Linked DNA regions of Homo sapiens. The protein of the gene in region 2 purifies or fractionates together with the protein of the main gene of each other region. This does not show direct contact. Each region holds a gene or a part of one and is shown on either strand. Other genes may lie near its edges.

Evidence for each region.
Region 1: the proteins of ZDHHC12 (region 2) and THEM6 purify together in Homo sapiens (affinity purification with mass spectrometry; one large-scale study listed by BioGRID and IntAct). This does not show direct contact.
Region 3: the proteins of ZDHHC12 (region 2) and SEMA4G purify together in Homo sapiens (affinity purification with mass spectrometry; one large-scale study listed by BioGRID and IntAct). This does not show direct contact.
Region 4: the proteins of ZDHHC12 (region 2) and ADCY3 purify together in Homo sapiens (affinity purification with mass spectrometry; one large-scale study listed by BioGRID and IntAct). This does not show direct contact.
Region 5: the proteins of ZDHHC12 (region 2) and PPP1R15B purify together in Homo sapiens (affinity purification with mass spectrometry; one large-scale study listed by BioGRID and IntAct). This does not show direct contact.
Region 6: the proteins of ZDHHC12 (region 2) and SLC44A2 purify together in Homo sapiens (affinity purification with mass spectrometry; one large-scale study listed by BioGRID and IntAct). This does not show direct contact.
Region 7: the proteins of ZDHHC12 (region 2) and NBAS purify together in Homo sapiens (affinity purification with mass spectrometry; one large-scale study listed by BioGRID and IntAct). This does not show direct contact.

Annotation. Positions count from the first base shown.
Region 1 is NC_000008.11:142,725,944-142,730,080, forward strand, and holds the start of THEM6 (protein THEM6), read left to right. Parts: upstream 1-1,279; 5' UTR 1,280-1,403; coding exon 1,404-1,916; intron 1,917-3,017; exon of another isoform or gene 3,018-3,547; intron 3,548-4,137.
Region 2 is NC_000009.12:128,721,140-128,725,584, reverse strand, and holds the start of ZDHHC12 (palmitoyltransferase ZDHHC12), read left to right. Parts: upstream 1-1,457; 5' UTR 1,458-1,491; coding exon 1,492-1,591; intron 1,592-2,845; coding exon of another isoform or gene 2,846-3,010; coding exon 3,011-3,147; intron 3,148-3,498; coding exon 3,499-3,576; intron 3,577-3,767; coding exon 3,768-3,934; intron 3,935-4,054; coding exon of another isoform or gene 4,055-4,082; coding exon 4,083-4,404; 3' UTR 4,405-4,445. UniProt on the Homo sapiens protein: Palmitoyltransferase that catalyzes the addition of palmitate onto various protein substrates. Has a palmitoyltransferase activity toward gephyrin/GPHN, regulating its clustering at synapses and its function in gamma-aminobutyric acid receptor clustering.
Region 3 is NC_000010.11:100,975,891-100,979,578, forward strand, and holds part of SEMA4G (semaphorin-4G isoform 1 precursor), read left to right. Parts: intron 1-1,741; coding exon 1,742-1,840; intron 1,841-1,929; exon of another isoform or gene 1,930-2,404; coding exon 2,405-2,498; exon of another isoform or gene 2,499-2,636; coding exon 2,637-2,750; exon of another isoform or gene 2,751-2,927; coding exon of another isoform or gene 2,928-2,958; coding exon 2,959-3,128; exon of another isoform or gene 3,129-3,211; coding exon 3,212-3,381; coding exon of another isoform or gene 3,382-3,482; intron 3,483-3,688. Other genes in the region: MRPL43 (large ribosomal subunit protein mL43), read right to left, coding at 2,928-3,121. UniProt on the Homo sapiens protein: Cell surface receptor for PLXNB2. May play a role in axon guidance.
Region 4 is NC_000002.12:24,833,110-24,836,797, reverse strand, and holds part of ADCY3 (adenylate cyclase type 3), read left to right. Parts: intron 1-1,804; coding exon of another isoform or gene 1,805-1,861; coding exon 1,862-2,004; intron 2,005-2,151; coding exon 2,152-2,313; intron 2,314-2,331; exon of another isoform or gene 2,332-3,056; intron 3,057-3,688.
Region 5 is NC_000001.11:204,408,994-204,413,330, reverse strand, and holds the start of PPP1R15B (protein phosphatase 1 regulatory subunit 15B), read left to right. Parts: upstream 1-1,513; 5' UTR 1,514-1,919; coding exon 1,920-3,839; intron 3,840-4,337. UniProt on the Homo sapiens protein: Maintains low levels of EIF2S1 phosphorylation in unstressed cells by promoting its dephosphorylation by PP1.
Region 6 is NC_000019.10:10,638,980-10,642,667, forward strand, and holds part of SLC44A2 (choline transporter-like protein 2), read left to right. Parts: intron 1-3,387; coding exon 3,388-3,472; intron 3,473-3,688.
Region 7 is NC_000002.12:15,169,688-15,173,334, reverse strand, and holds part of NBAS (NBAS subunit of NRZ tethering complex), read left to right. Parts: intron 1-3,647. UniProt on the Homo sapiens protein: Involved in Golgi-to-endoplasmic reticulum (ER) retrograde transport; the function is proposed to depend on its association in the NRZ complex which is believed to play a role in SNARE assembly at the ER. Required for normal embryonic development.

The DNA.
Region 1 (4,137 bases), on a different chromosome or scaffold from region 2:
GCAGATAACTAGCCAAACCCACCCCTTTATTTTGGCCCATCCCTTTGTTTCCCTAAGGGGTACTTTTAATCTATAATCTGTAGAAACTGTGCTTATCACTGGCTTGCTGTGAATAAACACGTGGGTAAATCTCTGTTGGAGGCTCTCAGCTCTGAAGGCTGTGAGACGCCTGATTTCCCACTCCACACCTCTATATTTCTGTGTGTATCTTTAATTCCTCTAGCACCGCTGGGTTAGGGTCTCCAGGACCGAGCTGGTCTCGGCACTGGGGGAGCTGCCCTGATAGGTAGTGAGCTCCCTGTCCCTGGGGCTATCAAGCAGAGCCAGGTGCCGCCCCAGGGAGCTCCTTCTTTGAGGGCGGTCCAGAACCCTGGAACCCCAGCCCAGGCCCAGGCCTGAATCCGGAGCTTGTTTAACCCAGCAATTCCGGGACCCCATCCCCGGTCGCTGGCATCCGCTGTCATTCGAGAGCCTGGGGCTGACGGGGAGAGCTGGTCCGGCCTTCTCTGGGCCGCCTTTCCTCCCCAGCCTCGTCAGGAAGGGGCACAGGACAGCCGAGCTGTGCGACAGCCCGCTGGGCCTGCGCCCCAGGGCCTCCGGCGACACTTGGAGTCCGCAGCTGAGTCACTGACTCTCACCCGGGCTCCCCCGCTTCCGCCCGGCCGTGATTTGCTCCGGTTTCAAAAGGGAGGAAGGGCGGGAATGCTCGGGAAGAGCCTGGGGTTGGCAGGACCTTTAGGGGGTGGAATGAATGTCGTGAGGGCGAGTAAGGAGGTACCGGCTGGGGCTGAAAATGCGCACGGGGACCATGAGCGTGATTCGCCCTGAGCCGCTGCGAACGCCCTGCGAGCTGGGGTGGCCCTGGAGGTCCTGGAGCAGAAGCTAGGTTCCCGCAGAGTCCGCTGCAGCGCCGCTGGCGATCGGGCTGGGTCCCATTTTCCACGAAAAGTCCCGCGGCTTCGGCCGCGGAGGTGCTGGAGCCTTTGCGCTCAGACGAAGGGCCGAACGGCCAGGGCCAGGCCGCGTCTTCAGAGCCTGGCGAGGGTCTCGCGCTGCTGGGAAGGCGGAGACGCCGGGGCGCGCGTGCACCCTCGCGCCTGCAGCGCCGCGCACGGCCGCCAGGTGCCGCTGTGGCGCTCAGCGCGCCGCCCGCCCCGCCCCAGGGAACGCGAAAGTGGCGCGGGCCTGGACGGCGGGACGGACCACGTAGGGCGCTGAGAAGGTCGCGCCACGGTGGGCGGGGCTCCGGGCCCCTCCCCCTCGGCCGCCCTCGCGCTGTGGTTCGCTCCGGGCGCGCTGCGCTCGTGAGTTCCCAGGAGGCCTGGCGGGCACCGTAACCAGCGCCGCGGACACCGGCACCGGCGCCACGGACTCCGCAGGACCCCGCGCCCGCCGCCGCCGCTATGCTGGGGCTGCTGGTGGCGTTGCTGGCCCTGGGGCTCGCTGTCTTTGCGCTGCTGGACGTCTGGTACCTGGTGCGCCTTCCGTGCGCCGTGCTGCGCGCGCGCCTGCTGCAGCCGCGCGTCCGTGACCTGCTAGCTGAGCAGCGCTTCCCGGGCCGCGTGCTGCCCTCGGACTTGGACCTGCTGCTGCACATGAACAACGCGCGCTACCTGCGCGAGGCCGACTTTGCGCGCGTCGCGCACCTGACCCGCTGCGGGGTGCTCGGGGCGCTGAGGGAGTTGCGGGCGCACACGGTGCTGGCGGCCTCGTGCGCGCGCCACCGCCGCTCGCTGCGCCTGCTGGAGCCCTTCGAGGTGCGCACCCGCCTGCTGGGCTGGGACGACCGCGCGTTCTACCTGGAGGCGCGCTTTGTCAGCCTGCGGGACGGCTTCGTGTGCGCGCTGCTGCGCTTCCGGCAGCACCTGCTGGGCACCTCACCCGAGCGCGTCGTGCAGCACCTGTGCCAGCGCAGGGTGAGCGGCCCCCGCCCCTGGCCCCGGAGCACGGCCTTTGTGGGACCTCCGGGGGCTCCTCCTAGTCCCTGGCCCCCTCCCCTAGGGAAGGCCCGCTGCCTGCACCTCTTTCGGATACTGCTGGAGTCCTGCCTCTTACCGCTCCCGCCCCTCCCTCTCTACCGGGGGCATTCCTCACTGATGCCTTTGTTCGTGGGGGTTCCTAGGGTCCCCGAATCAACTCTTCATAGTCGGGCTTAGCGTGCTTCCCTCCTGCCATTTCTTAACCTGGCCCCTCACGGTTTCGTGTTCACCCCTCTCCTCTCTCCTGGTACTCTGTTCTGTGGCTGGAGTGTTGACCTCTCTGGTCCTTGGTCCTGAATATAGGTTGGAGAGGTGATCAGTTAGAAGAGGTTCCTAGGAGTTCCCGAGGACCTGAGCCCCCCTTTCACACAGCTTAGAGCTGAAGGGCTGGGTTCTGGTCACCTGGGTTTGGGGTTGAGGTATTGAGCCGAGTAGCTGAAAGCCTTCTGGCCTTTCTGCAGTTGGAGAGAGGAGGGCCATGCACCTCCCAGGGCTCGCTCCTCCCAGCAGGGCAGAACCGCCCCTGCAGCATGGCACCTGGGGCCCTGGGGACGGCCACCAGGCCGATGTGGCCAGACCAGTTGCCAGAAAAGTTGCCTGGAGCGTCCGTGCAGGAAGCCAGGGCCTGTGCACCCCTGGTGTGCCCTTAGGGCACTGCCCTCTCCGGTCTCGGACAGGTGCCTCCCGAGCAGACGAGGGTCAACGTCTCATCTCAGTCCTGATGTTACAGGAAAGGGATTCAGATCCAGACCTCAAGGGAGGGTTCTTGGATCTTGTGTAAGAAAGAACTCAGGGCGAGTCTGCAGCGCACAGTGAAAGCAAGTTTATTAAGGTAAAGCGGTGAAAGAATAGCTGGTCCGTAGACCCAGTAGCATGTTCCTGTAAGAGGAGGAACGCGTCCACCCTAGGTGCAATGCTTGTATATATGGGGAGATGTGATCTGCTACAAGGGTTTGTGATAAAGGAGTAATTTTCTTAATTACTATATTTTGCAAGAATCAATATTACTATTTTCTTTTTTTTTTTTTTTTTTTTCAGACGGATTCTCACTCTGTCGCCCAGGCTGGAGTGCAGTGGCGTGATCTCGGCTCACTGCAACCTCCGCCTTCCGGGTTCACGCCATTCTCCTGCTTCAGCCTCCCCACTAGCTGGGACTACGGCGCCAGCCACCACGCCCGGCTAATTTTTTGTATTTTTAGTAGAGACGGGGTTTCAAAATCAGGAATGCCTTTGTTCTCCAGACATCGGGATATCTGGACACTCCCAAGTCTGGGTCTCTTTAGTAAACATTATTAATTTGTTCCCTTAACTGTGTTTGAAACGCTTGTTCCCCGGTGCCGTAAAGAAATAGCACGTGAACATAAATTTAATTTCCTCAGCAAGGCCATTTTTACTTCCTGCAGAAAGGGTACACTCGCCAGCAGCTTTGCCATGAGAGTACACCGAACAAAGGAGACAGGCTCATTTATAACCTGATGTGTAACAATCGCTTTTATTTAAAGTGCGAACGGAATATTTAATCCATTTCAGCCAGGGATTTGCATCTTGATACTCTCTCGATGGCTAAGGTCTGTTTTAGATCTCTTATTTTTACAATAGACACCCTAGTTTTATTATTAGATGTAGAAGCAACCGGTGTGAGATCTAGAACTGAGGCTACTGAAGAAGGGGGAGATGGGGGAATAATGCGTATTTAAAAAATACCTAGGGGGTCTTTTCCATTTATGTCAATCCCCATACCACAGAAGCGACTGAGGGCAGGTCTAGAGTTAGTTAAGGTGGAGGTGGTGATAGAGAAGGACAGGGTTACACTGATAAGGCTGACAGTTCGAAAGGGTAGTCCTTTCAGTGAAATAGATGAGGGGTTTTAGATCTGCACAGACCTTTTTCTTGGAAGTTTAACTTTGCTCCTGAGCAGTTGAATGTGTATAGTCCCGTTTACTACAAAGTTGGCAGGCTATAGGAGCAGAACATTGGCATCTTGGCTGCAGGTCATTACGATAATGAGAGCTAGGGGTAACCATGTCCATCAGAGGGCTGGGACGTAAGCATTTGTGTGAAAAGGCTAGCTGTTGTTGATCTTTTACATTTCCGCAAGGTATGACAGAACAAGCATTCAAGGCGGTGGTCTGAGGTGAGTTAGTTACAGTAATAACAA
Region 2 (4,445 bases):
GAGGTGGAGGTTGCAGTGAGCCCAGATCGCGCCACTGCACTCCAGCCTAGGCAACAGAGTGAGGCTCTGTCTCAAAAAAAAAAAAAAAAAAAAGGTGGGCATTCATTGACTCTTGCAACCAGGGGATGCAGAGTCAGTATCAGCTTCAGGGACAGCCGGATCTAGAGGGCTCAGACAATGTTGTTCAGACCATCTCTTGCTCCCTCCTTTAGTGCTGCTTATCCATCTCTATGTGTCTTTATAAGTTGGTCTCATTTTCTCCAGCCACAGACAGGGTAAGCCCTCTCCGCCCAGCGTAAAGACGGCTCCCAGTTGCCTTATATCCCATTCCTTAGGCTTGAGATCCAAAAGAATGCTCCTTCCTCTCAGCATCTAGACAGTAATCTCATGGAAGGCCTGTGATTGGTTCTGCAGAGTCGAAAGCCCACAGCCTGCCGCTCGCCATCCTATGGGGTGAGGGGCAGTCCCTCCAATCACATGGGATGGGAAGTCGATTCCCCAACCAAAAAAAGGATGTTGAGCTGAGAAAAACAACAGATGTCAGAGGAGTATCCTGGAGGAGCTGGGATGGGGCCAATCAGAGGGAGGCGGAGGAGGATGCTGGTATCAGTGGGAGGTGCTGTGGAAAGGCGGGGCTGAGTGGAGAAGGCCCTGGGGACACAGGGAAGGAGGACAGCCTGCAGCCTCCGGTGAGGAAAGTCCGCCTGTAGGTGGTGGCTCACAGCAGGAGAGGCAAGACAGTCCCGTGCTAGACAAGGCGCTTCCATTATTTAATCCTCCCAAACACCTTAGGAGGAAGACACTATTGTAATCCCCCTTATAGAGACAGAAAACAGCTCAGAGGGGCTCAGTAACTCGCCCAGGGTCACACAGGTAGGAAGGGGCAGTGCTGGGATTTCTGACTCCCGCCTAAGTTGGATCACCCATAGTCAGAATGTGCACCACGTACCTCCACTTTTCTCTCGTCCGTTTGCAATATCTGAGAATACATAGCAAGGAGGTAAAGCTGTCACCACAGAGCAACCTTGGGCGAGCCTTGGCCCTCTCGAGACTTTAGTCATCACATCTTTGAAATGGGTACAATTTTGCCTCCCGGACTCACAGCAAGCCGCTGGATCTTCGAAGCGCCCAGGGAGCTACGCGCATGCGCGAGGCTGCGAGGGCGGGCACAGGGGAACGCGGGGGAGGGCACAGCGGAGCGCGGGGGAGGTGCGCGCGCGCTCCGGCGCTTTCAAAAGTTACCTGGCGGGTGGGGCTGGAGTTGAGGGAGTTACCAGCTGCGCGCGCGCCGGCCCCACCCTCAGCCTCTTCAGGCACCTGTTGGCTTGAGGGTCCATTCGGCCGCAGATGCCATCCAATAGGCAGCCTCCCTGACCCAGTCCGGCCCCGCCCAACGCCTAGATCCACCAGTCCCCGGGCGGCGGCGTTCCCCTCCCTCGGAGGGCCCGCCCCTCTGGGCGCTTCTTCCGGGTGGGGCCCCGGGCCGAGGCGATGGCGCCCTGGGCGCTCCTCAGCCCTGGGGTCCTGGTGCGGACCGGGCACACCGTGCTGACCTGGGGAATCACGCTGGTGCTCTTCCTGCACGATACCGGTGAGCCGGACCCCGAGCGACCCCGGACCCACCCGATCCCGCGTACTTCCCCAGACGTTCTGGTCACACTGGGTCTCCCGCCTAATCCCTGGAGATCCTGGGATTGGCCCGATCTCCACCAGCTCCTGAAGCCCTCTCCCCATCTATCATTCCAAGAGCCACCTGCTCTCTGTCTGATACCCCGTTGATCCCTAATTAATCCCAGCATCTTCCTGATCATTGCCAAATGCCCTGTCCATCCCAGGACCCAGCCGGTGCCCACCAGATCCAAGGACCGACTTGAGCCCCATGTCCCCTGATCCTGGGACCCACATGATCCTTCCCAGGAACTGACCCCAAATCTTCCTATCCATACGATTAGGAGGCTCAACTAGATGCAAAGATTGGCATTCTGCCCACACCCACACCCCCCACACCCCCATGGCCACTAGCTGCCCAAGTCCAGGCAAACCCTCAGGCCAGAGAACACTCCATGGGGTGCGGCCTGTCTCCCATCTTCCCACAGATTCACCCACCCACCCACCTCCATTTCCCTCATTCCTCTTAGTAGCCCCCTACCCAGCGCCTCACCTGCCACAGGCAGCCTCCCCCACTGTCCCCCACAGCAGACCCCAGCCCTCCTTCCATGGCGGTCCAGCCTCAGTTTCTGGACTGGGGCCCCTTCTGGCTTTCCTCCCAAGACAGACCTCCTCCACCACCTTCACCCTTTAGCCTAAAAACTTGCTCAGGTCTCCGTATCAGAAAACCCCCCTCAAAACCCACCCTTTCTTCTCTGCTCCCCCTTACAACCAAGGGACACAGGATTTGTCTACACTCTGCTGTCTGGTGGTCTCATGCCCCCTCACTCCTTGCCCTGCACCCTACCTCCCCAAAATCCTGTCACCTCCCTGGGCTGAAGCCTGCTGGACCCTTCCGTATGCCCCTCTGCAGCATCTGAGCCTGCCAGCTGCACCCTTCCCACTGTATCTCTCTCAGGCATTTCAGACCTAACCAGTCTCTCACCATTGCAGAGCCAGAGACGCTGGACCCCTCTTCCCTCTCTCCCACATCCAGTCAGGTCTGGCTCCCTTGACCCAGCAGCCCCCTGTCCATTCCTTCCTCCCTCACTTCCTGCCAGGCCTTTGTAGCGACTCTCTTCTTCCTCCTGGCCAGATTCTCTGCCCCCAGGCTTCCCCTGATCCATTTCTTTAGCAATGAGGTTTTCCAAAACAGATCTGGCTCTATAACCTTCCATGGTTCCCTCTGACCCTCCAGATAAAAGTGCAGATGAACTGCTGGCCACACACAGCCACTCATGGAACCAACATCTCCAGGCCTTTGCTCAGCCAGGAACACACTTCCCCACCTCCAACTGCACCCCAACCCCACCCACTCCTGTTCTACCCGGCCCAGCCTCACTGTGCTCTCCGGCCTCTCCAGAGCTGCGGCAATGGGAGGAGCAGGGGGAGCTGCTCCTGCCCCTCACCTTCCTGCTCCTGGTGCTGGGCTCCCTGCTGCTCTACCTCGCTGTGTCACTCATGGACCCTGGCTACGTGAATGTGCAGCCCCAGCCTCAGGTAACCAGGGGCCCCTACTCTCACCAACAGGGACCTAACAACCAGCACCAGTCTCCATGCCAGGCTCTGTGCTGCAGGCTCTTGTGGGAGCAGTTCAGTGACTCCTCTTGCCACCCCTAGAGCCCCATCTACAGTAGTGAGGAAACTGCTGGGCCCCAGAGAAGGAAGAGACTTGCAAACATACACAGCCGCCCTCAGTCCAGGGTGCTCCGCCATACCCCACACCTCCATTCTGCATGGGATGGGTCCCAAACTCCATACCCAGAGCTAAGCCGGCCCCTAGGGGAGCTGCCCGCCAATGCCATCTGTCTCCCAAGGGGACCCTGTCTTACACCCCACCCCTCATTCCAGGAGGAGCTCAAAGAGGAGCAGACAGCCATGGTTCCTCCAGCCATCCCTCTTCGGCGCTGCAGATACTGCCTGGTGCTGGTGAGTGATGCACGGACACCCGTGGGAGAGGTTGGGCCAAAGCTGAGACTCCTCGACCTCCTCCTGCCCCACTGCCTGGGCCTCGCCCCTCCTCCAAGAAGGCCTTCCAGAATCAGGCCCTGATTCCTTCCCTCAGTGGTGGGCCCACAGCAGGGCTGGCACTGAGCCTCCACTCTCCTCCATGCCCACAGCAGCCCCTGAGGGCTCGGCACTGCCGTGAGTGCCGCCGTTGCGTCCGCCGCTACGACCACCACTGCCCCTGGATGGAGAACTGTGTGGGAGAGCGCAACCACCCACTCTTTGTGGTCTACCTGGCGCTGCAGCTGGTGGTGCTTCTGTGGGGCCTGTACCTGGCATGGTGGGTGCTGCTGCCCGGGTGTAGAGGGAGGGTGGGATGAATGCTCCCACAGGGGTGGACAGAGCCAGGACTCCCAGGGACCCGGCATGGGGAGGGAAGGGCTCCCCTGCCCTCCCCCAGCACCAGGCCCCTGTCCCCTGCACCGCAGGTCAGGCCTCCGGTTCTTCCAGCCCTGGGGTCAGTGGTTGCGGTCCAGCGGGCTCCTGTTCGCCACCTTCCTGCTGCTGTCCCTCTTCTCGTTGGTGGCCAGCCTGCTCCTCGTCTCGCACCTCTACCTGGTGGCCAGCAACACCACCACCTGGGAATTCATCTCCTCACACCGCATCGCCTATCTCCGCCAGCGCCCCAGCAACCCCTTCGACCGAGGCCTGACCCGCAACCTGGCCCACTTCTTCTGTGGATGGCCCTCAGGGTCCTGGGAGACCCTCTGGGCTGAGGAGGAGGAAGAGGGCAGCAGCCCAGCTGTTTAGGGTTGCTGGAGGCCGGGCTACCGTCTTGTGCCTGAAAACCA
Region 3 (3,688 bases), on a different chromosome or scaffold from region 2:
CCGTCTCAAAAAAAATAAAATTAAAAAAATAAATAAACATCTTGGGGAAACATCACTTTAGGAATATTTATCTGGCCCCAGGCACTGGATGGATGAAAATAGGGTGAGTCTGGAGGCAGGAAAAGCAGTGAGGAGGCTGGGGGCATCATTTGGGTCAGAGGAAGGGGCCTGAGCAGGCTTATGGAGACGGGGGACAGATGGTAGTGGCTTGTACCAGGTGAGGGAGCAGGAGGAGACACAAAGAGGCCTGTATGGATTTAAACCCTGGGTAACAGGCAAGAGGAGGAATCATTAACGTGGCAAAGGAGTCAAGAGGCTGGCAGCTGAGGGCATTTGACAGGCAGAGAAGACCAGTGTGGCTGGAGTAGGGTGAGTGAGACCAGAGGAATGGGCAGAGTCCCATCACACAGGGCTAGGAGCATGTGGGACTCTATATTCAGGTCACTGATGAGCCGATACAGTGGTGTGATCCACTTGACTTTTTTTCAGACATGGTCTCACTCTGTTGCCCAGGCTGGAGTGCAGTGGTTCACTGCAGCCTCGACCTCCTGGGCTCAAACAATTCTCTTGCCTAAGCCTCCCAAGTAGCTAGGACTACAGGTGCATGCCACCACATAGAGATGAGGTCTTGCTATATTGTCCAGGCTGGTCTTGGACTCCTGGGCTCCAGTGATCCTCCCACCTCAGCCTCCCAAAGTGCTGGGATTACAGGTGTGAGCCACCACACCTGGCTAGGTTTACATTTTTAGAATATCCCTTGGAAAGTGGTTGGAGAGTAGCAAAAGTGTGTTGTTTGGTAAAATATCTCTGGAAGGAAACTTCAGACAATAGTAACAGCAGTCTTCTTGGCAGGCAACCTGGGAGACAGGGATAAATGGGAGACTCCCTGTTTATAACATACCCCTTTGTACTTTCTAAGTTTTATACTATGTACATGTATTCATTGACTGAATAAATAGCTTTATAAAGTCGTTTTTATAAAAGAGAAGGTTGGGAGGAGCTATCAGGTAGCAACTGCAGATGTCTAAGGAAGAGGTCATGGTGGTCATTTGGACTGGGTGCTGGTGGTGGAGTCAAAGTGGACCAAGTCAAGAGACTTTTAGGACAATGAATTAATTGTGGAGAGGGACTGAATGTGGGGGTGAGGAAGTAGGAAGCAGCAAGGATGATCCCTGGCTTCTAGGTTGAGTCGTAGGTTGGATGAAGTGAGGTGGGAAAGACTGGATAAACAGGTTTAGGAAAGATGTAGGTTATGGAGGAGGGGATGAACTTGGCTTCTGACAAGGTGAGTTTGAAACATCCCTGGGATATCGGGTGGAGAGCAAGCTGGCATCTAGGGATAGATTTGGTTGTATCACCCCAGCGAGGAGGGCAGGAGTTCCAAGAATAGAAAGAGGTGCTGAGAAGGAGCTGGATGGGAGAGGAGAAGCACCTCAGGATGGTGGAATCCCTGGGAGCTCTTGAACCAGAGGTGGAGGGAACTGCAAGAGACACAGGAGATATTGGCAGAATGGTGTCAGGTAATCTGAGGGACAGAGGAGAGAAATAGGGTCATGTTACTGGGAGGCCAAGGACAGTGAGTTCCAGGAAATATTCTGGAGCAGTGAGAAGGATCACAGGTATCTTGGAAAGAACCGTTTGTCCTGTGGGTGGGGGCAAGAGCCAAACTACAAAGCTAGACTAATGGAGGAGGCTTCTAGTCAGGCAGGGGGCTCACAGCCCTCTCCACCTCATCCCACAGACGGAGTGCTTTAACCATGTGCGGTTCCTGCAGCGGCTCAATTCTACCCACCTCTATGCATGTGGGACTCACGCCTTCCAGCCCCTCTGTGCAGCCATTGTGAGTATACCTGTGTTGTGCCAGATCTCTGTTGACTTCATTAGGGATGGGATCATGTTCAAGATGCCAAAGAAGAGACTCAGAGCCAGTGAAGGAGACGGATGGTTTATTAAGGGGACTTCCATACAGGGCACTCCAGTGGCGGCGGGCTGCACTGGAGAACCATTCCCCTTTGTAAAAACCATGCAGTTTTTATAGCATTTTCACTTAGCATCCTCCCCCTAATCACCTCCACCTGGCAAACTTCATTTAACCCAAAACAAAGGGCCTTGATCCCCTGGACAGCATGTGTTCCACAGGATGGGCTAGGGGCTCAGATGTTCTTCATAGATAAGGAGTGAATCTCTAGGTTGGCCACTTGCAGATTTGGAACTCCAAACATACATTGTTTTGAGGCCATAAGGTCATTCTCAGGGGATGCTTAAGTTATTGCTGTCAGGTGCATCTGCCATACAACCTGCCCCTATCCCTGATCGCTGATCCCTGACCCCAGACTGATCTGACTTTGAGCCACTGTCCCTGCCTGTCTTCGGAACCACTTACTGCTGGTTCCTTGTTCCCTAGGATGCTGAGGCCTTCACCTTGCCAACCAGCTTCGAGGAGGGGAAGGAGAAGTGTCCTTATGACCCAGCCCGTGGCTTCACAGGCCTCATCATTGGTGAGCAGGCCTTCTTCCCTATCACAGACATGGTATTTTTAGGATGTGGATCTCATCTCTAGGACCTGCCACCATGTATATGTCATGTGCCCTGTTGAATATGACATGTCTCTCATGCCTGGAATATCCCCACGCCAGATGGAGGCCTCTACACAGCCACTAGGTATGAATTCCGGAGCATTCCTGACATCCGCCGGAGCCGCCACCCACACTCCCTGAGAACTGAGGAGACACCAATGCATTGGCTCAATGGTTAGGAGGATGAGGCACAGGATGATGGGGGGTAGGGGACTATTTCTTCATTTTTACTCCCTTGGCCAGCTGACCACCCCACCCCCAAATCCCCAGGTGAGCCTGTCCATTCCATTCCTGTGTGTTGTCAAGTGAGGGGTCAGCCTCAGAGTGAGGGAAAGGAATCCCCAGCCTGTCTCAAAAGCCTCTCAAACTGCCTGACCCACAGATGCGGAGTTTGTGTTCTCCGTCCTCGTGCGGGAGAGCAAGGCCAGTGCAGTGGGTGATGATGACAAGGTGTACTACTTCTTCACGGAGCGTGCCACTGAGGAGGGCTCTGGCAGCTTCACTCAGAGCCGCAGCAGTCACCGTGTGGCCCGTGTGGCTCGTGTCTGCAAGGTGGATTGGGCTGACGTTGGGGCACGGGTATAGAGGCTGGACCTCTGACCCTGGCCCCTTATCCCGTGCCTCTACCTCCCCAGGGAGACCTGGGAGGGAAGAAGATCCTGCAGAAGAAGTGGACTTCCTTCCTGAAAGCCCGTCTCATCTGCCACATTCCACTGTATGAGACACTGCGTGGGGTCTGCAGCCTGGATGCTGAAACCTCAAGCCGTACACACTTCTATGCAGCCTTCACGCTGAGCACACAGTGGTCAGTGCAGGGACAATCGGGAGGCAAGAAACTGCGGACAGCATAGGGGCTGGAGCAGAGGTCAATGAGGATGAGATAGGATCCACTGTGGGGAGGTCTGGCTGCAAAGTGAGAATTTTTTTTTTTTTTTAAGAGGGAGTCTTGCTCTGTTGCCAGGCTGGAGTGCAGTGGCGCGATCTCGGCTCACTGCAATCTCCGCCTCCCGGGTTCAAGTGATTATCCTGCCTCGGCCTCCCGAGTAGCTGGGACTATAGGCGTGTGCCACCACGCCTGGCTAATTTTTGTATTTTTAATAGAGATGGGGTTT
Region 4 (3,688 bases), on a different chromosome or scaffold from region 2:
TGCTCCTGCTTAGCACTGTAACCATGGACAGGTCACCCCTCCAGCCCCGCAAAACCCCACTGTCTCCTCATCAGTTACATGCCGGGGTGAGTAAGGTCAAAAGAGGTGCTTAGCTCGGAGGCCTTTGTAGCTCTGATGGCCCGGAATCCTGTAGATTTGAGATCAGTGAGGACATCCATGGAAAATTATATAGGATCTGAGACCATTTTGGAAGTGAGATATCAGACCTGGACTCACCCCTCTGGCTAGGTTCAAGCCCCACAAGTTCCATGCAAGATGGGATATTTCCTTAGCCCCCAAAGGCGAGGAATTAGCATGCTGTCCCAGAGTGCAGGGTGCCTCTTGGGGAGCACCCAGAACTGGTCCCTGACCGCAGGGCGTCTGGAGCACGTTCACTGATGGAGGTCAGTGCTGCAGAGATGGGATGTCTGCCCTGCTCGGGCTCACCGCGTGAGGGGGACAGGAGAGCTGGCCCTGGTGCCATTAGAGCAGATGCCGTAGAACAAGAGGGTAGATGGGGCTCAGGGTAAATTAGGTTTTTCTTGAGTCCCCCAACATTCAGTAACTTTTCCTTGTTGCAGTTTTCTTGATAGAAAGTGGGGGTCCAGACTCAGGGCACTCACTAGCAAGGAGGACACAGATGCAGCTTTAGCAGCCTGATTTTTCGGGCCCTGACCCTCAGCCAGGGCCACGCTGCTCCCGGATCTGCTTCAGGAACAGGTTCCCGCTGCTGCCACAGACCATCCACGTGATTTTACAGAAGGGGAAGATGTGGCTGGGGAAACATTATCTGGGGTCAAACTGTCAACCAGTGGCACACCTGTGCCTGTGCTTAAGACCAGGGAGTCTTTTTTTTTTTTTTTTGAGATGGAGTCACGCTGTCACCCAGGCTGGAGTGCAGTGGCGCGATCTTGGCTCACTGCAACCTCTGCCTCCCGGGTGCAAGAGATTCTCCTGCCTCAGCCTCCCAAGTAGCTGTGATTACAGGCGTGTACCACCATGCCTGGCTAATTTTTGTATTTTTAGTAAAGATGGAGTTTCACTATGTTGGCCAGTCTGGTCTCAAACTCCTGACCTCAAGTGATCCACCCACCTCAGCCTCCCAGAGTGCTGGGATGACAGGCGTGAGTCACCGTGCCCGGCCCCAGGGAGTCGTGACTGTGGCTCCCAGATGCACTGTTGAACCCGTTCAGACAGCTCTCAGCCCGTCTCAGTGACTATTCAGACTGATGGCTGTGTCATCACAGCCAGGATTCCTGTTTTTGGAGTTGATGCTTTTTCTTTGGAACTGGGAATAAAAGGGTAGTGGGTGCCCCAGCTCCACCTACCCGCCCCTTGTCAGCCCTCTAGTGATGAGGACATTCTTCTCTCTCCCATCACTTTCCCCCTCAGATCTTCCTTTCCAAATGAGCCAGATGTGAGTTCCTTTAACAGTTCCCTGAAGCCCTAGAGTTGGGAGCCATTCATGTCCCCAGGCTGCCAATGTATATGGCCCCCACATCAATACAGCAGGAAGTGCCAGGACTGCCTCAGCCCAGCAGCTGTCTCCGATTACAGGTCTCCTGCTCAGGAGCCAGGGGCTGCTCCCTACAATGCTGTCATTAGCGGACCCTCCCTGCAGAGCTCTGGGTGGGGGGCCCGGGGAGCCAGGAAAGACTGGAGCTTTGGGTGTAGATCCAGGCCACATGGAGCCACGTGGGAGCATGGGGAAGACTTCCCGGAAAGGGATTTTAGAGCTGGAGGGATTGGTCCTCCGAGTATGCCCTCTTTTGTTCCTTTCCTCCTCCACCTCTGTCTTTCCCAGCTCTTCCCCACCACTCTGTCCCATCTGCCCCACTCACGCTGCCTCCCTGGCTCACAGGCCGACAACCCCTCATTCCCCAACCCACGCCGGAGGCTGCGCCTGCAGGACCTGGCTGACCGAGTGGTGGATGCCTCTGAAGATGAGCACGAGCTCAACCAGCTGCTCAACGAGGCCCTGCTTGAGCGAGAGTCCGCCCAAGTGTAAGCGCCACCCGGAAGCGTCCAGGCCCACCACTCCTCCCGGGCCCTGACAAGGGATTCAGGAAACTGAGCATCCCAAATACGGCCCCCCTGCTAGGCCAAGGCAGATGTGGCATTTGGGATTCATGGGGCTTGTTCCCACTGCAGAGTAAAGAAGAGAAACACCTTCCTCTTGTCCATGCGGTTCATGGACCCCGAGATGGAAACCCGCTACTCGGTGGAGAAGGAGAAGCAGAGTGGGGCTGCCTTCAGCTGCTCCTGCGTCGTCCTGCTCTGCACGGCCCTGGTCGAGATACTCATCGACCCCTGGTGAGGGAGGGGCCGGGGAGGGCCACGAGTTTCCTCGGCTGCGGTGGTGCCGGGCGGGGGGCGGGGGCAGGTGTCTCAGCGGGAGCCTGACATTGGGGAGCAAGCCAGTCTCTGCTCCCTGACCCCCACTGGGACGGCCCCCACAGGCCCCAGGAGTGCTAGACGGCACCCTGGGCATCCTTCCTTTTCCCTGCCCCGCGTTTTGGAGCAGTCCTAGCGTCAGAATGGGGATCTGGCCAGGATCAAGAGAGCTGAGGGACAGAGGCCTCCAGAAGGCTGGAGACCTTGGCTAGATGGGCCCACACTGATTCTTGGGACAAAGATGGGGACACTGCGTCAGTCTCAGTCACCAAGGCTGACCTGGCCCCTCTCTTGGCTCATCTTGGTAAAGATAGATTTTAGGCTGTGGGCACAGACTGACGCCCTCTCTAACGCAGCAGTAGGTCCTCCAGGGCAAGGTGTGGCCTCCTGGAGTCCCCAGCTGGTGAAGCCCTGTCTGAGGGTGACGACCACTCTCTTGTTCTCCCTTTCTCCCCTCGGCCAATCGGGGATTCCCCGTCACAGAGGAGGGGTCTGGAACCCTGCTGGGATTACAGTTTGTCAGGAGCCTTGGGCTGGGTCACACTATCTAAGGTTGCGGGTGTGTGACCACGTGCAGGCCACTGCAGGCTCCGGCAGCATCTGTTTCCTCATCTGTGAAATGAGGAGAACAACCCCTGCCCTAGCGGACACTCACGACTGTGGTGAGGCTCAAATTCACTCATTCCATAAGTATTGATTGGTTGTCTGCTTCATGCGTGGGGATCAAGGGCTGGGGCTATGGCAGCGATGCGGCACACAGAAACCCCTGCTCTCGTGAAACTTGGGTTCTGGTAGGGGAAGCTACAGGCAAAAGCAATTAAACAATTAAAATATGCATCCATGCGAGAGTAAGTACTGCAGACACAGGGAAGGCAAGGAAGGGAGGCGGGTATGCTGCTGGGGAGCTTTGTTTTGTTTTGTTTGCATTTTGATGTGGGATGGTCAGAGCAGGACTTGCTGGCAGGATAATATTTCAGTAACGCCTGGAAGCGGGTGAGGGGCGAGCCTTCTCCTATCTGGGGGACACCTGCTTCGGATAGAGGTGCTGAGGCTGGAGTGGCCTGGCCCCTGGAGGCACAGTGAGGAGGCATCGCATTGGGAACGGGCCACAGGAAGAGTAGCAGGAGTCCAGCACAGACGTGGGGCCTCCTACACGCCACTGCAGGGTGCCAGCTTCCACTCTTAACACAGGAGGCCGCCAGAACAAGGGAGCAGAGGAGTCCCCTGTTGTGACATATGCCTGGAGAGGCTCACTCCTGCTGAGAACAGCGCTTAGTGAGCACAGCGGGAGCAG
Region 5 (4,337 bases), on a different chromosome or scaffold from region 2:
ATGAATTGAATATGTTGCCTGCTTGGAAGCATAAAAGAGAGTAAATAGTTCTGGGGACTGAGCTGCTTCTCTGTGAGTTTAGTTTGCCCCACACCAGACATGTATGTACGCAGCACTGCCCAACTTTTACATAAGATCTCAGGTTGATGGTCTACATAGTACTGAACAATAGGAGAACCCTGAAATATCTGTCAGGCTGGGCGCAGTGGCTCACGCCTGTAACCCCAGCACTTTAGGAGGCCGAGGCGGGCAGATCACTTGAGCTGAGTTTGAAACCAACCTGGGCAACACGACGAAACCCTGTCTCTATAAAAATATGCAAAAATTGGCCGAGCACGGTGGCTCACGCCTGTAATCCCAGCACTTTGGGAGGCTGAGGCGGGCGGATCACAAGGTCAGGAGATCGAGACCATCCTAGCCAACATGGTGAAACCCTGTCTCTACTAAAAATACAAAAAATTAACTGGGCGTGGTGGCACACGCCTGTAGTACCAGCTACTAGGGAGGCTGGGGCAGGAGAATCGCTTGAACCCGGGAGGCGGAGGTTGCAGTGAGCCGAGATTGCGCCACTGCACTCCAGCCTGGCGACAGAGTGGGAATCCGTCTCAAAAAAAAAAAAAATTTAGCTGGGCGTGGTGGTGCGAGCCTGTAGTCCCAGCTCCTCGGGAGGCTGAGGTGGGAGGCTCACTGGAGCCCAGGAGGTTGAGGCTGCAGTGAGCCGAGATCGCACTACTGCACTCCAGCCTGGGCGACAGAGCTAGACCCTGTCTCAAATAAATAAATAATAAAAATCTAAGACTACGATAACCCTACAGTTGGCCCGCGGGGCATTCAACCTTCCATGGATTGAAAATATTCGGGAAAAATAAAGATAATAAAACATAATACAAATAAATACAGTATAACAACTAGTTCCATAGCACTTGCATTGTATTAGGTATTATACTTAATCTAGGGGATGGTTTAAATATCTGGGAAGGTGTATGCAGGTTATATGCAAACACTATACCATTTTACATAAGGGACTTGACCGTCTGCGGATTCTGGTGTCTACGGGGTCCTGGAACTAATCCCCATTTCATGAGAGGGGATGACTGTACACACGTCAGTGTGTATTAGGCCATCAAAACGCCTCCGGGAAATTCTCGGGTTATTTTGAAAACCCCTCCCCTCCCCAAGACCTTTAACCTAGAGGGCTGTTGGGGCGGTCTCCTAGGAGACCACACAGAAACGACTGCGCATGCGTGCATTCCCCCCCCCCCCCCCCCCCCCCCCCCCGCCCCGGCTGATGCAACCTCACGCTGCCGTGCGGCTCTACCTCGAGTAAGGAAGCCGACAGGGAAATCTGGCAAAACCAATCGGCGGCCACACGGAAGTGGGCGGAAAGGCCCGCCCCCCGGGGATTTTGCGAGTGACGTTGGGCGGCGCGGCGCTAGGGACGTAGACGCCCAACAGTCCTGCGTCTCTTCCGGCGTCTAGGGGGGTGTCCTGCCGGCGCGCGGGCCCTGCGGCCATTTTGGGCTTCGCTTCCACCGCACCAGCCGGCCTACCCAGTCCTTCCGGTATCGCGTTGCTCAGGGGCTTTTCAACCCTCTGTCAGTCGGAAAACCATCGCCGAGGCCGTGGGGGGACTCCTATCCATGGTGTTGAAGCGTCGAGCCGACTAGGGAACCTCCTTCCCCGCCAGGATGGAAGTCGCATCAGTCGCCGCCTATTGCGCGGGCTGTTCTTCCCTGTGTTCTGCCGCCCGCTGCCGCATTCGCTGCCCTCTGTGGCTTTTCTGCTGGCTCGAAGATCGGCCTGGAGCAGCGACGCCACCGCTGGGCAAGGCCGAGACTCTGTAGGCTTCCTCCGAATCCCGTCGACCTCCAGCCGCTGAGCGCCGCGGCCCTACCTGAGAGACTGTCAAGAAAAAGGAGATGGAGCCGGGGACAGGCGGATCGCGGAAACGGCTTGGCCCTCGGGCGGGCTTCCGGTTCTGGCCACCCTTTTTCCCTCGGCGATCGCAAGCAGGCTCTTCTAAGTTCCCGACGCCTCTTGGCCCGGAAAACTCCGGGAACCCCACACTGCTTTCCTCTGCCCAGCCCGAGACTCGGGTCAGTTACTGGACGAAACTGCTCTCCCAGCTCCTTGCGCCGCTCCCCGGATTGCTTCAGAAGGTGCTAATTTGGAGCCAACTTTTCGGTGGAATGTTTCCGACCAGATGGCTAGATTTTGCTGGAGTCTACAGCGCCCTGAGAGCCCTGAAGGGACGGGAGAAACCAGCCGCCCCCACAGCGCAGAAATCTTTGAGTTCGCTGCAGCTCGACTCCTCAGACCCCTCGGTCACCAGTCCCCTTGATTGGCTAGAGGAGGGGATCCACTGGCAATACTCGCCCCCAGACCTAAAATTGGAGCTTAAGGCCAAGGGAAGTGCTTTGGACCCTGCAGCACAGGCTTTTCTCTTAGAGCAGCAGCTGTGGGGAGTGGAGCTGTTGCCCAGTAGCCTTCAATCCCGTCTGTACTCTAACCGGGAACTTGGCTCTTCGCCCTCTGGGCCTCTAAACATTCAACGCATAGACAATTTCAGTGTGGTATCCTATTTGCTGAACCCTTCCTACCTGGACTGCTTTCCTAGGCTAGAAGTCAGCTATCAGAACAGTGATGGAAATAGCGAGGTAGTCGGCTTCCAGACACTAACCCCAGAGAGCAGCTGCCTGAGAGAGGACCATTGTCATCCCCAGCCGCTGAGTGCAGAACTCATTCCGGCCTCGTGGCAGGGATGTCCACCTCTTTCTACGGAAGGCCTACCAGAAATTCACCATCTTCGCATGAAACGGCTGGAATTCCTTCAACAGGCTAGCAAGGGGCAAGATTTACCCACCCCTGACCAGGATAATGGCTACCACAGCCTGGAGGAGGAACACAGCCTTCTCCGGATGGATCCAAAACACTGCAGAGATAACCCAACACAGTTTGTTCCTGCTGCTGGAGACATTCCTGGAAACACCCAGGAATCCACTGAAGAAAAAATAGAATTATTAACTACAGAGGTTCCACTTGCTTTGGAAGAAGAGAGCCCTTCTGAGGGCTGTCCATCTAGTGAGATACCTATGGAAAAGGAGCCTGGAGAGGGCCGAATAAGTGTAGTTGATTACTCATACCTAGAAGGTGACCTTCCCATTTCTGCCAGACCAGCTTGTAGTAACAAACTGATAGATTATATTTTGGGAGGTGCATCCAGTGACCTGGAAACAAGTTCTGATCCAGAAGGTGAGGATTGGGATGAGGAAGCTGAGGATGATGGTTTTGATAGTGATAGCTCACTGTCAGACTCAGACCTTGAACAAGACCCTGAAGGGCTTCACCTTTGGAACTCTTTCTGCAGTGTAGATCCTTATAATCCCCAGAACTTTACAGCAACAATTCAGACTGCTGCCAGAATTGTTCCTGAAGAGCCTTCTGATTCAGAGAAGGATTTGTCTGGCAAGTCTGATCTAGAGAATTCCTCCCAGTCTGGAAGCCTTCCTGAGACCCCTGAGCATAGTTCTGGGGAGGAAGATGACTGGGAATCTAGTGCAGATGAAGCAGAGAGTCTCAAACTGTGGAACTCATTCTGTAATTCTGATGACCCCTACAACCCTTTAAATTTTAAGGCTCCTTTTCAAACATCAGGGGAAAATGAGAAAGGCTGTCGTGACTCAAAGACCCCATCTGAGTCCATTGTGGCCATTTCTGAGTGTCACACCTTACTTTCTTGTAAGGTGCAGCTGTTGGGGAGCCAAGAAAGTGAATGTCCAGACTCGGTACAGCGTGACGTTCTTTCTGGAGGAAGACACACACATGTCAAAAGAAAAAAGGTTTGTTTCTTGTCTTTTAACATGCCTGATATGTTCTGACTGTTTTTATATGCTTAAATATAGCAGCATGACTTTGGAGGCTTAGGAGTGCATGTATTTTTGAGGAAGGCCTCTAAATTCATATACTTGGATTGAGAAATATGTAAATGACCCTTCTCCTCCTGTCCCTCACCCCCCACCCCAATGCACATTGTTGCTGTCCAAAACGAACATACCAGTGTGTAGATGTTAGCAGGAAAGTGCCATTTTTATTTGGGTTGGTAGTTCTGGACTGTTTCCTTACAAGCTTCAATTTTTCACACTTTTTAACGGACTATTAAACTTTGTGTGTACACGATTTAATTTTTCTAGAGATTGAAAAGGTCCTGTTACAGCCATAGAGTTTTAAAATGATTTTAAATGTATGTTGTCTGCAAATACTTAATATTTTTTTTGCATATAACAAGAGTGTCTTCATTCCTGTCCATTACAACCCAAAGGGATGATGATATCAAGTAG
Region 6 (3,688 bases), on a different chromosome or scaffold from region 2:
GTAGAGACGGGGTTTCTCCATGTTGGTCAGGCTGGTCTCGAACTCCCGACCTCAGGTGATCCACCCGCCTCAGCTTCCCACAGTGCTGGGATTACAGGCGTGAACCACCACACCTGGCTAATTTTTGTATATTTAATAGAGATGGGGTTTCACCGTGTTGGCTGGGCTGGTCTCAAACTCCTGACCTCAAGTGATCCGCCCGCCTCGGGCTCGCAGAGTACTGGGATTGCAGGTGTGACCCACCACGCCCGACCTCAGACCACAAACATTATCAAGCACCTACTGTGTGTCAGGCATCGAGGTGGAGGGCTTCCCTCTAAAGGCCTTAGAGTTTGGGGGTAAACAGATACTCCTCCATAATGATATTGGTGAATGTATGATTGCAAACTGGGACATGCCACGAGTATGTCTGTATAGCACAGGGAACTGTTTGAAACTGTGGTGGGGGCTGGGCAGGTGTGGGGGGGGTCCAGGTGGTGCCATGCAGGTGATGTTGGATCTGAGATCTGAAGCTGCAGGCAATATCCAGGCAGAGGGAACAGTACAGTGGCCCTGAGGTGGGAGTGTGCCAGGAAGCAGTGGGGCTGACGTGGAAGGAGTAAAGAAGTGGAGATAAGGGCCAGGCACCGTGGCTCACACCTGTAATCCCAGCACTTTGGGAGGCTGAGGCAGGTGGATCACCTGAGGTCAGGGGTTTGAGACTAGCCTTGCCAGCATGGCGAAACCCAGTCTCTACAAAAAAAATACAAAAATTAGCGGGGCGTGGTTGTGGGCACCTGTAATCCCAGCTACTCGGGAGGCTGAGGCAGGAGAACTGCTTGAACCTGGGAGGCAGAGGTTTCAGTGAGCCGAGATCGCGCCACTGCACTCGAGCCTGGGTGACAGAGTGAGACTCTCTCTCAAAAAAAAAAAAGTGGAGATACGGCCAAGGAGGTTAACAAGGCTGTGGAGGGATTGAGCCTTCATTGCAAGGGCAGTATTGTATCTCAGTGTAGGTCTTGAAGCCCATTGACCTAGTTTCTTATTTTAGTTCCTCTATTTAGTAGTTCTAAGATGAGTAAGAGTAATCTTGGGCAAATTATTTAATCCTCTAAGGTCCACTGACTTTTTTTTTTTTTTTTTTTTTTCTGCGATAGAGCCTTGCTCTGTCACCCACGCTGGAGTGCGATGGAGTGATCTCTGCTCACCACAACCTCCACCTCCCGGGTTCAAGCGATTCTCCTGTCTCAGCTCCCTGACTAGCTGGGATTACAGGCATATGCCACTGTGCCCGGCTAATTTTTGTATTTTTAGTAGAGACGGGGTTTCACCCTGTTGGTCAGGCTGGTCTCGAACTCCTGACCTCAGGTGATCCACCCACCTCGGCCTTCCAAAGTGCTGCCAATAAAGGCATGAGCCCCTGTGCCTGGCCATTTCATTGTTTTGAATTTTTAATTTAATATAATAGAGATAGGCCAGGTGTTGTGGCTCAGGCTCTACTATAATAACAATAATAATAGAGGCAGTGTCTCCCTATATTGCCAGGCTGGTCTTGAACTCTGGACTCAAGGGATCCTCCTGCCTCAGCCTGCCAAAGTGCAAGGACTACAGGCATGAGCCACCACGCCCAGCCAGGTCCACTGACTTCAGTCAACAAATGTTTATCTAGCAGCTACCAAGGCCGTGTGAGTCTCCAGATTGCTAGGGATGCAGCAGTAAATGGGACTGGGTCTAGTGAGGATGTGAGCATTAAACCTGAAAGCCCTAAACATGCATAAAATTGCAGCTGCACCAAGAGCTCAGGAGGGGTGCCCAGTGCTAGGAGGACATAAAATAGGCTCTAGAGGCCGGGCATGGTGGCCCACACCTGTAATCCCAGCACTTTGGGAAGCCAAGGCAGGCGGATCATGAACGTCAGGAGATTGAGACCATCCTGGCTAACATGGTGAAACCCCATCTCTACTAAAAATACAAAAAAATTAGTCAGGTGTGCTGGTACGCACCTGTAGTCCCAGCTACTCAGGAGGCTGAGGTAAGAGAATCGCTTGAACCCGGGAGGTGGAGGTTGCACTGAGCCAAGGTCCCACCACTGCACTCCAGCCTGGGTGACAGAGCAAGATTCCGTCTCAGGAGGGAAAAAAAAAAGGCTCTCAGCCAGACGCAGGGGCCCACATGTATAATCCCAGCACTTTGGGAGGCCGAGGCAGGCAGATCGCTTGAGCTCAGGAGTTTGAAAACAGCCTGGGCAACATGGCAAAACCCCATCTCCACAAAAAAATACAAAAATTAGCTGGGTATGCTGGAACATGCCTGTAGTCCCAGCTCCTTGTAAGCCTGAGGTGGAAGGATCACTTGAGCCTGGGAGGTCAAGGCTGCAGTGAGCTGAGATGGGGCCACTGCACTCTAGCCTGAGCAACACAGTGAGACCCTGTCTCAAAAAAAAAACAAAAAAAAAACGCCCACTCTAGGTGTCGTAGGTGGTTTCCTGGAGGAGGTGGGACTTGAGGACTTGCTCTTTGAGCTGAAAGCAGAAGGTCGATGGGGCATAAATTAGATTTAAGTCAGGACAATAGCACATGCAGAGGCCCAGGGGTTAAAGAAAGCAAGGGTGAGGCTGAGTGCAGTGGCTCATACCTGTAGTCCCAGCACTTGGGGAGGCCAAGGTGGGCGAATCTCTTAAGCCCAGGATGGGTAATGGGTAACGTGGCAAAAACCCATCTCTACAAAAAATACAAAGGTTAGCCGGGCACAGTGGTGCACATCTGTAATCCCAACTACTCCGGAGGCTGAGGCGGGAGGATCACTTGAGCCCAGGAGGCAGAGGTTGCAGTGAGCTGAGATTGCACCACTACAATCCAGCCTGGGCTACAGAGTGAGACCGTGAGACCCTGTCTCAAAAAAAGAAAAAAAAAAAAGGCCGGGTGTGCGGTGGCTCACGCCTGTAATCCCAGCACTTTGGGAGGCTGCGAGGCAGGTGGATCACCTGAAGTCAGGCGTTTGAGACCAGCCTGGCCAACATGGTGAAACCCCGTCTCTACTAAAAATACAAAAATGAGCCAGGCGTGGTGGCACGTGCCTGTAGTCCCAGCTCCTCCGGAGGCTGAGGCAGAATTGCTTGAACCTGGAAGGCAGAGGTTGTAGTGAGCCAAGATCGTACCATGGCACTCCAGTCTGGGCAACAGAGTGAGATTCCGTCTCAAAAAAAAAAAAAAAAGACGGAGAGAGAGAAAGAGGATTTTGTGTGGATGGTGGGGCCCTGCCAGCGGGGGTGAGGGGTTGGGATGTCACTAATCCAAAGAGGGTTTCTCAGCAGGGGAAGGATGTGGTCCCAGCATAGGATGGACTCAGGGGGTGGGGGCTGCTCTGGGAAGGACACGGAGCAGGGACAGCTCGTTTCTCCTTGCCCAGACGGTGATCGTTGGCTCCTACTTGATTGCACACGGTTTCTTCAGCGTCTATGGCATGTGTGTGGACACGCTGTTCCTCTGCTTCTGTGAGTGACCCCTCACCCCAAACCTTGCTGGGCCCCGAATCCCTTCTTTCCACTGGGCATCACATCACCCTCCAACGGGGCAACACGCTTGCCTGCCCCCAGCTTCCCCAGGGCTTGGCTGTCCCTCGTCCTGGGTCCCCAGCCTGTCTTCCTGGTTTCCTTTTGCGCTTAGAAGCAGCTCCGACCTCCTGTCCACTGGCCCAGGCTGCAGCCTGG
Region 7 (3,647 bases), on a different chromosome or scaffold from region 2:
GCTTGATATAGATCCATAAAATCAAAGATTTTAAATCAGAGAAGGTTCATTACCTATTGTTGGAAGAGGAATTAAGCAGATAACATTTTAATGGCTTGGAAGACAGCAGTGCTTTGTGCTTTAATAGATTTCTTTCCCAAGATCTGTAAAGTATCATTTATTCTCAAAAATTAATTGCTGACACACAAAAAACAATCTCTGACAGAGATAGCAAGCATTTTACTCATCTTCTGATATATATAAGCCCTTCCCTTTCTAGAAAATCCTTTTCTCATGATTTGTTTGCCTGTATTAACATCAGCTATTTACTGAACCTGGACTCTGCACTTGGCATTGTGCTGGGCACTTAAAAGCTTGTATTATTCCCAACCCTTACAGACAGTGTGTATTTCTGATGTGGAAACTGGAGCTCAGAGAGATCGTCCTGAACAAGGTCACACAGTTGTTTAGTGACAGAACCAGGATTGGAAATTTGTCTCTAACCCAAAAGCCTGTCTTCTTTTCATAGCACCAGACTATCTCTCACTGTAATTCAAAGTTATTTGATCAGGGGAATTAAGTCAACTAATTCTCTGGACTTGTCTCATATTTATTTCTCACATCCAAACCGCATCCAAAAATGACAGAATATATTTTCTTTCTCATGCCCCTTAAGCACCAGTCAACCCACTGGCAGGGCTGTGTGATTTTCCACAGACCATATACCAAAGTCAATTTCTGATCAATTTAAAAGTCAAATGTTGTTAAAAGTCAGAAAATATAAAAATAACATATCAGTTCCTTTGAGGAATTGTAAGTTCTGAGTTTTAAAGCAATAAAACAAGTCATAAAGGAGTAGATCCTTTCCTGACAATATGAAAGTGTAAAACTTCTATACAACAAAAAACAACCGAAACAGAACTGTAAACAATAGGTTAGAATGTTCATGATAACAAAAATCAGGGTTAAGATTTCAGTTATACAGAGAATCCTTCACATGTGAAAGAGTGGGAAGCTGTTATAACTCTCCTAAATGAGTGAATGATTGATTCTTCCCACAACAAAAAATAAAAATGATAGGAAATTTATGGAAAAATTCATTCTTGCAAATAAATTCAAATGAAAGCAACCTTGAGGTACCATTACATATCTCCTAAATTAGCAAGTGATTTTTTCCTATCAAAATATTAACACCTAAAGCTGAGAAGTTCGTGATGTGACACTGATGCATTCCCATGCTGATGTCACCGCTGTAAGCTGGCACAGTTGACATCATTATGTGGTTGTGCTTACATTCATATTTAGAACCAAAAAAATGTTTCAGATACTTTGCCTGATGTATTAATTTGCTCATATTACCCTAACAAAGTACCACAGACTAAGTGACTTAAACAAGAGAAATTTATTTTCCTACAGTTTTGGAGACCAGAAGTCTGATGTCAAGGTGTAAGGTTGGTTTCTTCCCAGGCCTCTCTCCTTGGCGTGTCGACGGCCGCCTTCTCACTGTCCTCACATGGCTGACCCTTGCTTTGTGTGCGTGTCCTGTCTTCTCTTCTTGTAAGGACACCGGTTATATCGGAGTCCATCCTGATGACCTCATTTTACCTTCATTGCCTCTTTAAAGTCCCTGTCTGTAAATAAAGTCACATTGTGAGGTACTGAGGGTAAGGGCTTCGACATACGAATTTGTGCGGGACACAGTTCAGCCCGTAACACTGCAGTGATACCTCCCCTGGTAACTTGTCCTATGCCGATAATTTCGATGAAGAAGAAAGTATGTGCAAAAAAACATTCATGGTAGTGTTTCAGTAATATCAGACAACTTAAAATGGCTGAAATATTTATAGAAGTCAAATAACTTATAACAACTATTTTGCAGCCATTAAAATTTTTAAGACTGAAAACTATGTAAAAAACAATTTAAAAATTCTTAGCATATAATGAGAAAAATAGAATACAAATATCATACGATTAATTGTGGGAAAAAAATCTATGCACATGGACAGTTACTGGAGAGGAAAGGAGGGTGAAATAATTCTCTTGTGGTGACCCAAACATGGATGACATACAAATTACCGTCACACAGCCTGAAGAGCCAGACCTCAGGTGCCTTGGGAGTATGGAGGAAGGAGGAATCAGCTTGGCCAAGAGAGTTAAACAAAATGTCAGCAAGAAGGTGGCATGTTTTTTTCCAACTATTTCCACTTTTTTATTTTTATCTTAAAAAGAAAAAGTAGGTTAGAATGAATAATGCATGGTCAGAGAGTACCAAGCTTCTGTGGCAGATAGTACTAAAGTTTTAGTATGTTTAGTACAAATTTTAGTCAAAAACAAGAAAAAACAAAGACAACTTGAGGCTTAACAAATTAATCCAGCAACTCAGCAGTGTGCTGATGTCACAGTGTTGGAGAGTGCTTTGGGACAGGACACCCAGCACTCGGCTGTGCTGATGGGAAGGATTCTGTCTGGCCTTGGTGCCCTGATATGTAGAAAGGAACATCTTGGCTGTCTATGACCTGTTCCTTCTCTGAACCTCAGACGACTCTTTAAAATGTACTTGTTGGAATGGGTCATTACAAAGGCCATCTCTTTCTTTCTTCTTTCATTTTCTATTTTGTTCCCAAATACACACAGAAAAATTATCTATGCAGTATTTTCCGTGCAGCTGACAATCTTAAAGTATACTCTGGCCATTCTGTATTTCTTGCAAAGAGCCAGGCCCAGGTAGAATGTCAGAGAAAGGAAATAAGATAAAGTCACCCACCCTGCGTTTCCAGCACTTGATTTTATCTGAAGCCAAACCCAAAATTCCTCCCAACCTTTCCCTGCTCACTGCCCAAGCTCAATGCAGGTCAGCAAACGCAGACCTTTATCGTTCTTTAGGGAACCTCTGAGTGGGCCGGGGCCAAGGGGAAGGAAGCATGCATTTCATTTCCGTGTCTTTAGCCTTAGGCATTCTCAGCCAAGAAGGCAAGCAGCAGGCTTTTGGAGAAAAGACAGCCTACCCTGCCCTTCCCCACCCCTTGCCCTCCCTGCCAGAATGAGAGCAGCTTCTGAAAAGCTGGGTATATCCAGCCAGAAACACGGGAAGGATTTGGTTGCACTGGATAGAAACACAAACTATGAAGGGAATGAGAGCAGCAGCGGCCGCAGGCGTTAACAGAACCCCTGTCTCTTCCTCAGGCTGGAAGAATCCATCACTACCTCTCTAGGAGACTGTCGGGCTCCCAGAGGGGAGGGTTAGTGAGTAAACTGAAAGAATAATAAAGGTGTCCCAGCCTAGAAGACGTATTCAGGGCAACAAAGAAAGTATTGCCCTGCAGTGTTCAGATTCTGAGCCTTTTATCTGTGCATCTTATCAAACATGTGCCTGTAGCATCCTGGCACACACTGTTCTGTCCTGCAGGGTTAGGCAGGGGGATTCTTTGTTTTGAAGGATGAACCAAGATAACACATACAGTAACTCAGATGCCCTGTGTGTGTGCACGCATTAGCATGTGCATGCACGTGGCTGGAGGCAGCCACACAGACTGAAAGAATGTGAGCTTTGGAGTGATTCATTCACTTGGGTATTCATTCCACAAATCTTGCTCAGCTCCTAGCATGTGACCACCCATTCTGGACATGGGGATACAGGGGTGAACAGAAGAGACAAGATCTCTGCTCCA